Linked DNA regions of Homo sapiens. The protein of the gene in region 1 interacts with the protein of each later gene in a biochemical or structural test. Each region holds a gene or a part of one and is shown in the gene's direction. Other genes may lie near its edges.

The links. Proteins that work in one complex are often made in the same cells at the same time.
Region 2: of the proteins of MAP3K10 (region 1) and MAPK14, one has a biochemical effect on the other in vitro, tested with the Homo sapiens proteins (one study listed by BioGRID).

The regions. Positions count from the first base shown.
Region 1 is NC_000019.10:40,196,984-40,202,188, forward strand, and holds part of MAP3K10 (mitogen-activated protein kinase kinase kinase 10), read left to right. Parts: intron 1-1,391; coding exon 1,392-1,572; intron 1,573-5,205. UniProt on the Homo sapiens protein: Activates the JUN N-terminal pathway.
Region 2 is NC_000006.12:36,099,956-36,104,307, forward strand, and holds part of MAPK14 (mitogen-activated protein kinase 14), read left to right. Parts: intron 1-232; coding exon of another isoform or gene 233-312; exon of another isoform or gene 313-318; intron 319-2,615; coding exon 2,616-2,694; coding exon of another isoform or gene 2,695-2,747; exon of another isoform or gene 2,748-2,809; intron 2,810-4,352. UniProt on the Homo sapiens protein: Serine/threonine kinase which acts as an essential component of the MAP kinase signal transduction pathway.

The DNA.
Region 1 (5,205 bases):
ATACTTCAGTCAGATTTTGTCACGATCATGCTGTGTAATAAGCTACCCCCAAAACTCGGCATCTTAAAACAGCCATTGTGTATTACTGCTCCTGCATTTGCGGACCAGCTGGAGGGTAAACTGATGGAGGCTGGGCTCAGCTGGAGAGGCTTTGCTCCAAGTAGCTCTCATCTTCTTGGACAAGCAGGCTAGCTGAGGCATGTTGTCATGGTGATGACACAAGTGCAAGAGGGCCAGCAGACATGCAAGGCCTGGGCTTGGAATTGGCACCCTGTCATTCTTAGCCAAAGCAAGTCATACGGCTGAGCCAGAGTCAGGGTGCACTCTGCCTTTGTTTTTGTTTTTGTTTTTGTTTTCTCGGAGACAGAGTCTCGCTCTGTCACCCAGGCTGGAGTTCAATGGCGCAATCTCAGCTCACTGCCACCTCCACCTCCCAGGTTCAAGTGATTCTCATGCCTCAGCCTTCCAAGTAGCTGGGATTACAGGTGAGCACCATGATGCTCGGCTAATTTTTGTATTTTTAGTAGAGATGAGGTTTCACCATGTTGGCCAGGCTGGTCTCGAACTCCTGACCTCAAGTGATCCGCCTGCCTTAGCCTCCCAAAGTGCTGGGATTACAGGTGTGAGCCACCGTGCCTGGCCATACTCTGCCTCTTTAGCAGAAAGAATGGCAAAGTCTCATGGCAGAGTGTGGACACAGGAAGGGGTAGAATTGGGACCCTGACTGCAGTGTGCCACGGGGGTGATAGACACGAGGGGGAAGCCACGTTCCTCCCTTCTGCCCCAGGTTTGCACTTCCTGCTTCCAGGGTAGCTGGGAACTCAAGGCCTGGAGGACTAAGGCCTTGGCTGTTGTTTCTTTTTTTTGAGACGAGGTCTCACTCTATTGCCCAGGCTGGAGTGCAATGGCAAGACCATGGCTCACTGCAGCCTCAACCTCCCAGCCTCAAGTGATCCTCCCAACTTAGCCTCCCAAGTGGCTGGGACTGTAGGCATGCACCACCACACCCAGGTATTTTTAAAAAGTTTTTGTAGAGATGAGGTCTTGCCATGTTGCACAGGCTGGTCTCGAACTCCTGGGCTCAAGTGACCCGCTTCAGCCTTGGCTGTTGGTTCTTGACCATTCATGGAGCTCCCCAAAGCCCAGGACAGAATCAGGAGGGCAGAGGACACAGGAGGAGCTCCCTACTCCCTCATGGGAGCCTGGGACAGGGATTAGACCTGGGCGGAGGGGCTCATGGATGTTCCAGGCCAGGAAAGGACCTGCCACAGAGCGGGGCAGCCTGAGGCAGTGAGAGGAAAGACGTGTTTCTAGCTGAGGCAGCGGGCCAGAACACTTGGGTCTGCGGCGTGGCAGGTCTGGGGTGACCCACCTTTCTTCCCACCCCACAGTCCTGATCCTGGAGGCCATCGAGAACCACAACCTCGCAGACACGGTGCTCAAGATCACGGACTTCGGCCTCGCCCGCGAGTGGCACAAGACCACCAAGATGAGCGCTGCGGGGACCTACGCCTGGATGGCGCCGGAGGTTATCCGTCTCTCCCTCTTCTCCAAAAGCAGTGATGTCTGGAGGTGCTGAAAGGCGCGGCCGGGATGGCCTCTGGGGAGTAAGGGAGGGAGGAAGGGGTGAGGGCAGAGTGGGAGGGAGGGTCTCCTGCTGAAGCCAGGATCTCAGTCTGACAAAGGGACCTGCTGGCAAGGTCAGGCCACCAGACAAGTGCCAGTTACCTGTTCAGCTAGCACAAATGGCAACTAGGGGGCACACTGGATTAGAATAAAAAGCTCATAGGATCTAGAGACAAGGCCGGGCGCGGGGGCGCACACCTGTAATCCCAGCACTTTGGGAGGCCGAGGTGGGCGGATCACTTGAGGTCAGGAGTTTGAGACCAGCCTGACCAACATGGTGAAACCCCATCTCTACTAAAAATACTAAAATTACCTGGGCGTGGTGGCAGATGCCTGTTGTCCCAGCTACTCGGGAGACTGAGGCAGGAGAATCACTTGAGGCCGGGAGGCAGAGATTGCAGTGGGCTGGGATTGGCCACTGCACTCCAGCCTGGGTGACAGAGCGAGACTCTGTCTCCAAAAAAAGAAAAAATTTAAAAAAGCATAGAGACAGCACATGGATGCTAGCACTGAAAGCCCCCTCAGACACTAGCCCATGCACTGTCCCATCTGTCAGACAGGAAAATGATTAATTCACTCATTCATTCCTTCATCTAACTGCACCGGGTTCTAGGGATATAGCAGAGAAGAAAAATACATGCAATCCCTGCCCTCAGGAATAGTAAGTCAGTCAACATACAAGAAGCTCTTTTTTATAAAGCTGTTTTTTAAGAAAATTATAATTTTTAAAGACAAGTACACCAGAAAAAAGTGTTAGTACAAAGTGCGAGGAGGCTGAGAGGAAGGCACTTTAAGGGCTGGAAGACTACTTTTGGGAACGCTTCTCTGAGCAATCTGAGAAATGATACTTCATCTGAGTTCCAAGTGGCAAAAAGGAACCAGTCACGAAAAGTTTGGAGGAAGAAGGAGGTGCTGAGGTGAGCATGGTGTGTCCCAGAAACAGCAAAGAGGCCCATGTGGCTGCCACTGTGCAGGCAAGGAAGAGAGAGGTAGGAAATTATGTAGGAGAGGGAGCTGGAAGGCCCTGTGGGTGAGGGAGTGGCCTTCAGGTTTTATTCTAATGAAGTAGGAAGCCATGAGGAGCCATGTCTGAATAGAGTGGTAGCTCACACCTATAATCCCAGTACTTTGGGAGGCCAAGGTGGGAGGATCACTTGAGGCCAGGAATTTGAGACCAGCCTGGTCAATGTAGTGAGACCCCATGTATATGAAAAAGAAATTTTTAAATTAATTTTTATAAAAGGAAGTAAATAAAAACTCCTTTGGAGGCCGGGTGCGGTGGCTCACGCCTGTAATCCCAGCACTTTGGGAGGCCCAGGTGGGTGAATCCCTTGACACCAGGAGTTTGAGACCAGCCTGGCCAACATGGTGAAATCCCACCTCTACTAAAAATACAAAAATTCGGCCAGGCGCGGTGGCTCACGCCTGTAATCCTGGCACTTTGGGAGGCCGAGGTGGGTGGTTCACTTGAGGCCAGGAGTTCATTCAGGACTAGCCTGGCCAACATGGTGAAACCCCATCTCTACTAAAAATACAAAAATTAGCCAGGCATGGTGGTGGGTGCCTGTAGTCCTAGCTACTCAGGAGGCTGAGGCAGGGGAATTGCTTGACTGCAGGAGGCAGAGGTTGAGATGGCGCCGTTGCACTCCAGCCTGGGTGACAGAGCAAGACTCCATCTGAAAAAAAATACTTAAAAATAAAAGCTCCTTTGACTGTTAGGTAGAGACAGCCAATGATGGGTCTGTTGCTGTCACCAGTGAGAGTTGATGGTGGCCATGGAGACTTTCAACCCAGGACCTTCTGCTTGGTTGGAGCCAAACCTGGGTCTCCCCATTTACTGTTCCCGTCAATTCCCAGCTGAGGCTCCAGATTGTCCAAGCAGCAAATTAATGGGTATGGGACTGAGACAGATCAGACAGGAAGTCTCCAGCTCAGCCTAGAGCAGAGCAGCCCTTTGGGAGAATTTCCAACTGGCTGTACATCAGGCGTTCATTTGTGCTACCTTTTTTTTTTTTTTTTTTTTTTTTGGGACAGAGTCTCACTCTGCCGCCCAGGCTGGAGTGCAATGGCACAATCTCAGCTCACTGCACCCTCCTCCTCCCAGATTCAAGTGATTCTTGTGCCTCAGCCTCCCGAGTAGCTGAGATTATAGGCATGCACTGGCTAATTTTTATATTTTTAGTGGAGACAGGGTTTCACCATGTTGGCTAGGCTGGTCTTGAAGTCCTGACCTCAGGTGATCCGCCCGCCTCAGCCTCCTAGAGTGCTGGGATTACAGGCATGAGTCACTGCACCCGGCCGGGCAGGCTAATTCTTTCTGATGTGGTCCTGTCCTGTACTTAGCAGGATGCAGGATATCCACACCTCCCCGCCATAAACTTCAGTAACATTCTCAGTCATTATTACAATCACAGTAACCCCATAGGTTTCCAAGGACATGGGAGAGAGGGGTGGATCATGCTACCCTCCAGTTATAAACCACTGTTTCTCCCCCACCTTGTATGGTCTCCATTCTGAAGTTTACTTCATGATCCAAAATGACTGCTTGAGCTCCAGCGTTTTTTGTTTTTTTTTTTTTTTTGAGCTGGAGTCTTGCTCTGTCGCCCAGGCCGGAGTACAGCGGCGCGATCTTGGCTCACTGAAACCTCTGCCTCCTGGGTTCAAGCAATTATCCTGCCTCAGCCTCCCAAGTAGCTGGGACTACAGGCACATGCCACCAGGCCCAGCTAATTTTTGTATTATTTATTTATTTTTTTTAATTTTTCAGTAGAGACGGGGTTTCACCATATTGGCCAGGACAGCCTTGATCTCTTGACCTCATGATCTGCCCACCTGGGCCTCCTAAAGTGCTGGGATTACAGGCGTCAGCCACCGCACCCAGCCTTTTTTTTTTTTTTTTTTTTAACAGGGTCTTGCTCTGTCACCCAGGCTGGAGTGCAGTGATGCCGTCACAAATCATTGCAGCCTCAACCTCCTGGGCTCAAGTGATCCTCCCACCTCAGCCTCTCTAGTAGCTGGGACTACAGGCATGCCACCACACCAGGCTAATTTTTTGTAGAGACGAGGTCTCACTTTGTTTCCTACGCTGGTCTCGATCTCTTGGGCTCAAGAGGTCCTCTTGTCTTGGCCTCCCAAAGTGCTGACATTACAGGCGTGAGCCACTGTGCCTAGCTCCACACGCCAGCTTTTTTTTTTTTTTTTTTTTTAATTTTAAGTTCTGGGATACATGTGCAGAACGTGCAGGGTTTGTTACATAGGTATACATGTGCCATGGTAGTTTGCTGCACCCATCAACCCATCATCTAGGTTTGAAGCCCCGCGTGTGTCAGGTATTTGCCTAATGCTCTCCCTCCCCTTGTCCCCCACCCCCCAGGCTCCAGGTTTTATGTCTACATTCCAACCACAAGAAGGGGAAAAAAGGAAAATGGCACCCCTTCTTTTTATTTTTTGAGACGTAGTCTCACTCTGTCTTCCAGGCTGGAGTTCAGTGGCACGATCTCAGCTCACTGCAAGCTCCGCCTCCTGGGTTCACGCCATTCTCCTGCCTCAGCCTCCCGAGTAGCTGGGACTACAGGCGCC
Region 2 (4,352 bases), on another chromosome or scaffold:
AAAGAAAAGTAATTTTTCTTATCTGCATGGCCAGTCACTGGCTACGTGCCTAGTTACTCATGTCATTCACAGAAGTGTACTGTAGCATGCAGCTGTGGGCTCTCGGGTAGGGGGAATGGAGGGTAGGTTTTTTTGTCTGTTTGGGGGTGGCTTTTTGACCTTTTTAAAAACTTGAGTTGAAAATTATTTTTTGCACTGTATGTTTAACAATGCCCTTGACTAGGCATCTAAGATATTAACCAGCTTCAGCAGATTATGCGTCTGACAGGAACACCCCCCGCTTATCTCATTAACAGGATGCCAAGCCATGAGGTGAGAACAAAGAGACTGTACAGGGATGTCGCACTGAGAAGCCACATTCTCATTTTATTGCCACCGTATAACCAACAGTTCTTAACATCACTGGATGCTTGCATGTGCCTTGAGGCCTGCCTATGTGCTATTGCAAGATGTTGACTTTTGGGATAAAATGTCATCCAGTCCTGTGAGATTGGGAATATAATTAGTAAGCTTGTAAATGGAAAATTGTTATTTTTATATTTGGTTGTGTGAATTTAGTGCTTGTGAGGCGGTTTCTTTCTAGGTGCTCTGCCTGTAGCTAGGGTGTGCTACTATCGTGACCTTTATCAGAAGGGTAGTTAACTGAAGTCCATTAGCATGCTTTCCAATTCATCCATTTTTTTAATGACCAAAAGAGGATTCTTTATTTAAAAACAAAACTGAAATATCCAATACTAATATGTACTATATTTAAAAGAAAATACACAAATAATATAGAATAAATACAAACACTTTGGTACAGTTAGGTACCTTCTTTATTAATTATTAACTACTTAGTCTAACTCTTGTTTTATTATCAGAGATGATTGGGGCACTTCTTTCTTTGTAAGATACCCTTAATATTTTGGGGAACCAGGTTGGCATCACAGAGGGCCCTTCCCAGCAGCTTTGTTTCTACTTCAGCTATATTCAGGTCGTCTTTTGATTTATCTTTATTAAAGGGATGACTGTTCTCTGAATGAGATAGTTCTCTCTTACCTGTTTTCCCTTCCTCTTTTTATTTACATGTTCAAGTAGAAAGGGATTACAGCCATTTATGTATTCAATTCCTAAAACTTTCTTTTCAAATCAGAAAGATTCTCAATTGCTTTTCAAAGCAGACCTTTCCTCCTGACTCCACATGCAATAATTAAGAAGCGGAAGGCTGGGTGTGGTGGCGTGCACCTGCAACCTCAGCACTTTGGAAGGCTGAGATGGGAGGATCAGTTGAGCCCAGGAGTTTGAGACCATCCTGGGCAACACAGCAATACTGCAGCTCTACAAAAAAATTTAAAAATTAGGGCATGATAGCACATGCCTGTAGTCCCAGCTACTTGGGAAGCTGAGGCAGGAGGGTTGCTTGAGTCAGGAGTTAGAGGCCATAGTGAGCTGTGATTGTGCCAGTGACCTCCAGCCTAGGCAACAGAGCAGAGACTGTGTCTCTAAAAAAATTTTTTTAATAAATAAAGAAGGTGAACTTGCCCAAGCAACCAGATTTTTTTTTTTTTAAGACAGGATCTTAACTCTGTCACCCCAGCTGGAGTGCAGTGGCACGATCTTAGCTCACTGGAACCTCCACCTCCTGGGCTCAAGCTTCCTGGGCTCCATCTCCCTGCTCAAGCGATCCTGTTACCTCAGTCTCCCAAGTAGCTGGGACCACAGGCATGCGTCACCACACCTGGCTAATTTTTTGTATTTTTGGAGACAAGTTTTCACCATGTTACCCAGGCTGGTCTCAAAGTCCTGGGCTCAAGCGATCTGCCCACCTTGGCCTCCCAAAGTGCTGGGATTACAGGCGTGAGTCACCGTGCCTGGGCAACCAGAACTTTTTATAAACTTGTGTGTGTATGTGTAAACATAAATATACATACATACTTTTACTGTTGGACTGTATTAAAACAGGAGTTTTAAAGAGGTGGTTAAGATAGACAGCAGACTTTGCTTCTGAAGGTGATAGTGGGATAGCAGATAATGTTTCTTGAACTGTCACTTGGAACCAAGTACTGTGTTAAGAAAGTACTAGGTTTGTTATCTCTAATCTTCACTCCAACCCTGTGAGGTAGGACTGTTATATTAAGTTTATATTAACTTTTTTGTTACCACCGTTACTTTGTTAGCAAGGTTTAATATTGATATCCTTTGATGTACTAAGAGCACCTACTGAAGTCAGCACTGTCAAAAGACTGCTGGTCCAAGACTTGCTTTGGGAATACCAACCCCTCTACCAATTTAGCTGTTTGAGAAGGCTGTCTCAGGGCTACTTCTTACATATCTTGGCCTCAGTTTTTAAACTTCTCATCCTGTGATCAGAAAGCTAATGAAAGAGAATTTGATTGATGAGCATTCTCGTTCACTTGAAATGCAACTGTGAGAGATAGCAGGAATAAAGAAGGTGATGATCATAACTAGGGAAGTTAGGATGGCAGTAAGGGAGAAGTTCTATCAAAGACAGTTAGAAACACTGAAGTTAGTGGACTTTGTCAGTTAACACTCGTTCCTTAGCAGGACCAAGATTCTTTCTTTGAGAGCAGTAACATTATTGAACAAAGTCATTCTGAAAACCCTTGTTTTTTCAGGCAAGAAACTATATTCAGTCTTTGACTCAGATGCCGAAGATGAACTTTGCGAATGTATTTATTGGTGCCAATCCCCTGGGTAAGTTGACCATATATCCTCACCTCATGGATATTGAATTGGTTATGATATAAATTGGGGATTTGAAGAAGAGTTTCTCCTTTTGACCAAATAAAGTACCATTAGTTGAATCTTGGAAGGTGATAAATACGGCTTTTATTATCTATTTGTGTTGTCAGATTTTTTTTTAATCACATGAGATGATTGTATGTTTAAATGATCACAGAACTTGGGATTGGGGGAATGGGCAGGTACAGTGGAGAAAGGAGAGAAAGTAATGGGAATGTTGAGAGAAAAGATTGGTGAGGCAGGAAGAAGCAGATACAGAAGAAAGCTGTAACTTGCTCACAACTGCTGTGGATTTATGGTGTCTCTGAGTGGAGGACAGAAACCACTGAAGTGCAGGTGGGTGTTTAGAGGAGCCACCCAGGAGCTCCCTGCAGGGTGCTCTGCTCTAACGGTAGCTGCCGTTGCTACAGATCCTGTCGTCTTCCACACTCATGAACTTTTCCCCTCTCCTCTTCTTTCTCTGCCCTCAGAGGCATAACCGTCCTCTCCTGTTTGTGGAGCTTATTTGCTACCTAAACTTAAAGGAATGGCTTCCTATGCCTTCAAGATCCTTGGCAGAGGGAAGTGATGGTGGCAGCTGAAGATATGTGTTGCCTTGGCTAAAAAAGGAGTTGCTTTATTATTATTATTTATTTATTTATTTATTTATTTATTTTGGTAGTGTCAGGGTCTCGCTCTTTTACCCAGGCTAGAGTACAGTGGCACAATCATAGCTCACTGCAAGCTTGAACTCCTGGGCTCCAGTGATCCTCCTGCCTCAGCCTTCCAAATAGCTAGGACTACAGGCATGCATCCCCAAGCCTGGCTAATTTTTTAAAGAATTCTTTGTAGAGACAGGGTCTCACCATCTTACTAATCGTGGACTCCTGGACTCATGCAGTCTGCCCACTTCAACTTCCAAAAGTGCTGGGATTCAGACGTGAGACACTGTGCCTGGCGGACTATATTCTTTGAAGGGGAGGAGTGATGTGTGCTTCAGATGGCCCCTGAAAGCTGCTTTGCCTGAGGCTCATTCCCTGACTCTTGAAGAGGACAGTGGACAGTGCTGTTTAATGGTGGACACAGAAGGATCAGACCAGGACCTCCCTACAATAGGGAAGGGAGCTATGCTATGGTAACGAGTATAATCTGCCTTCTCACTTTTCTTAAGATTGTATTGTGTGGTGTGTTTTAAAATCTCACTGCATTTCTTTGCATCTGTTTGGGTCATCTGTCTTCTTAAGGGTCTTGGCAGCTATGCTTCAGGTTTAGTTTTATCTTTTTGAGGGCTGACAGCCATGCTGACCTCTTTAGAAGCTGGGGTGAAGGCTAGGTGATTTTACCTTTTTAAGTACTTCATCCATAGTGATTATGGAGAGGAATTTTAGTGTCGCTGTGATAATTCTTATAATAGCAGAGATACTCACGCTCTTTGAAGTTTTGGGCAGTTGTGGATGAGTTCGTGTCAGCCTTGGAGACAGAGAGTATGTCATATCTCAGCTGGGTCGCTCTCCTGCCCTAGGATGAATCCACAGTCTCATCAGGGGTGGGTACGATTCTACTGAGACTGGCTTAGGTTTGCATCTGCCCTGGCATGCTCTCATTGGCTTTGTGTGATTTATTTGAGCTGT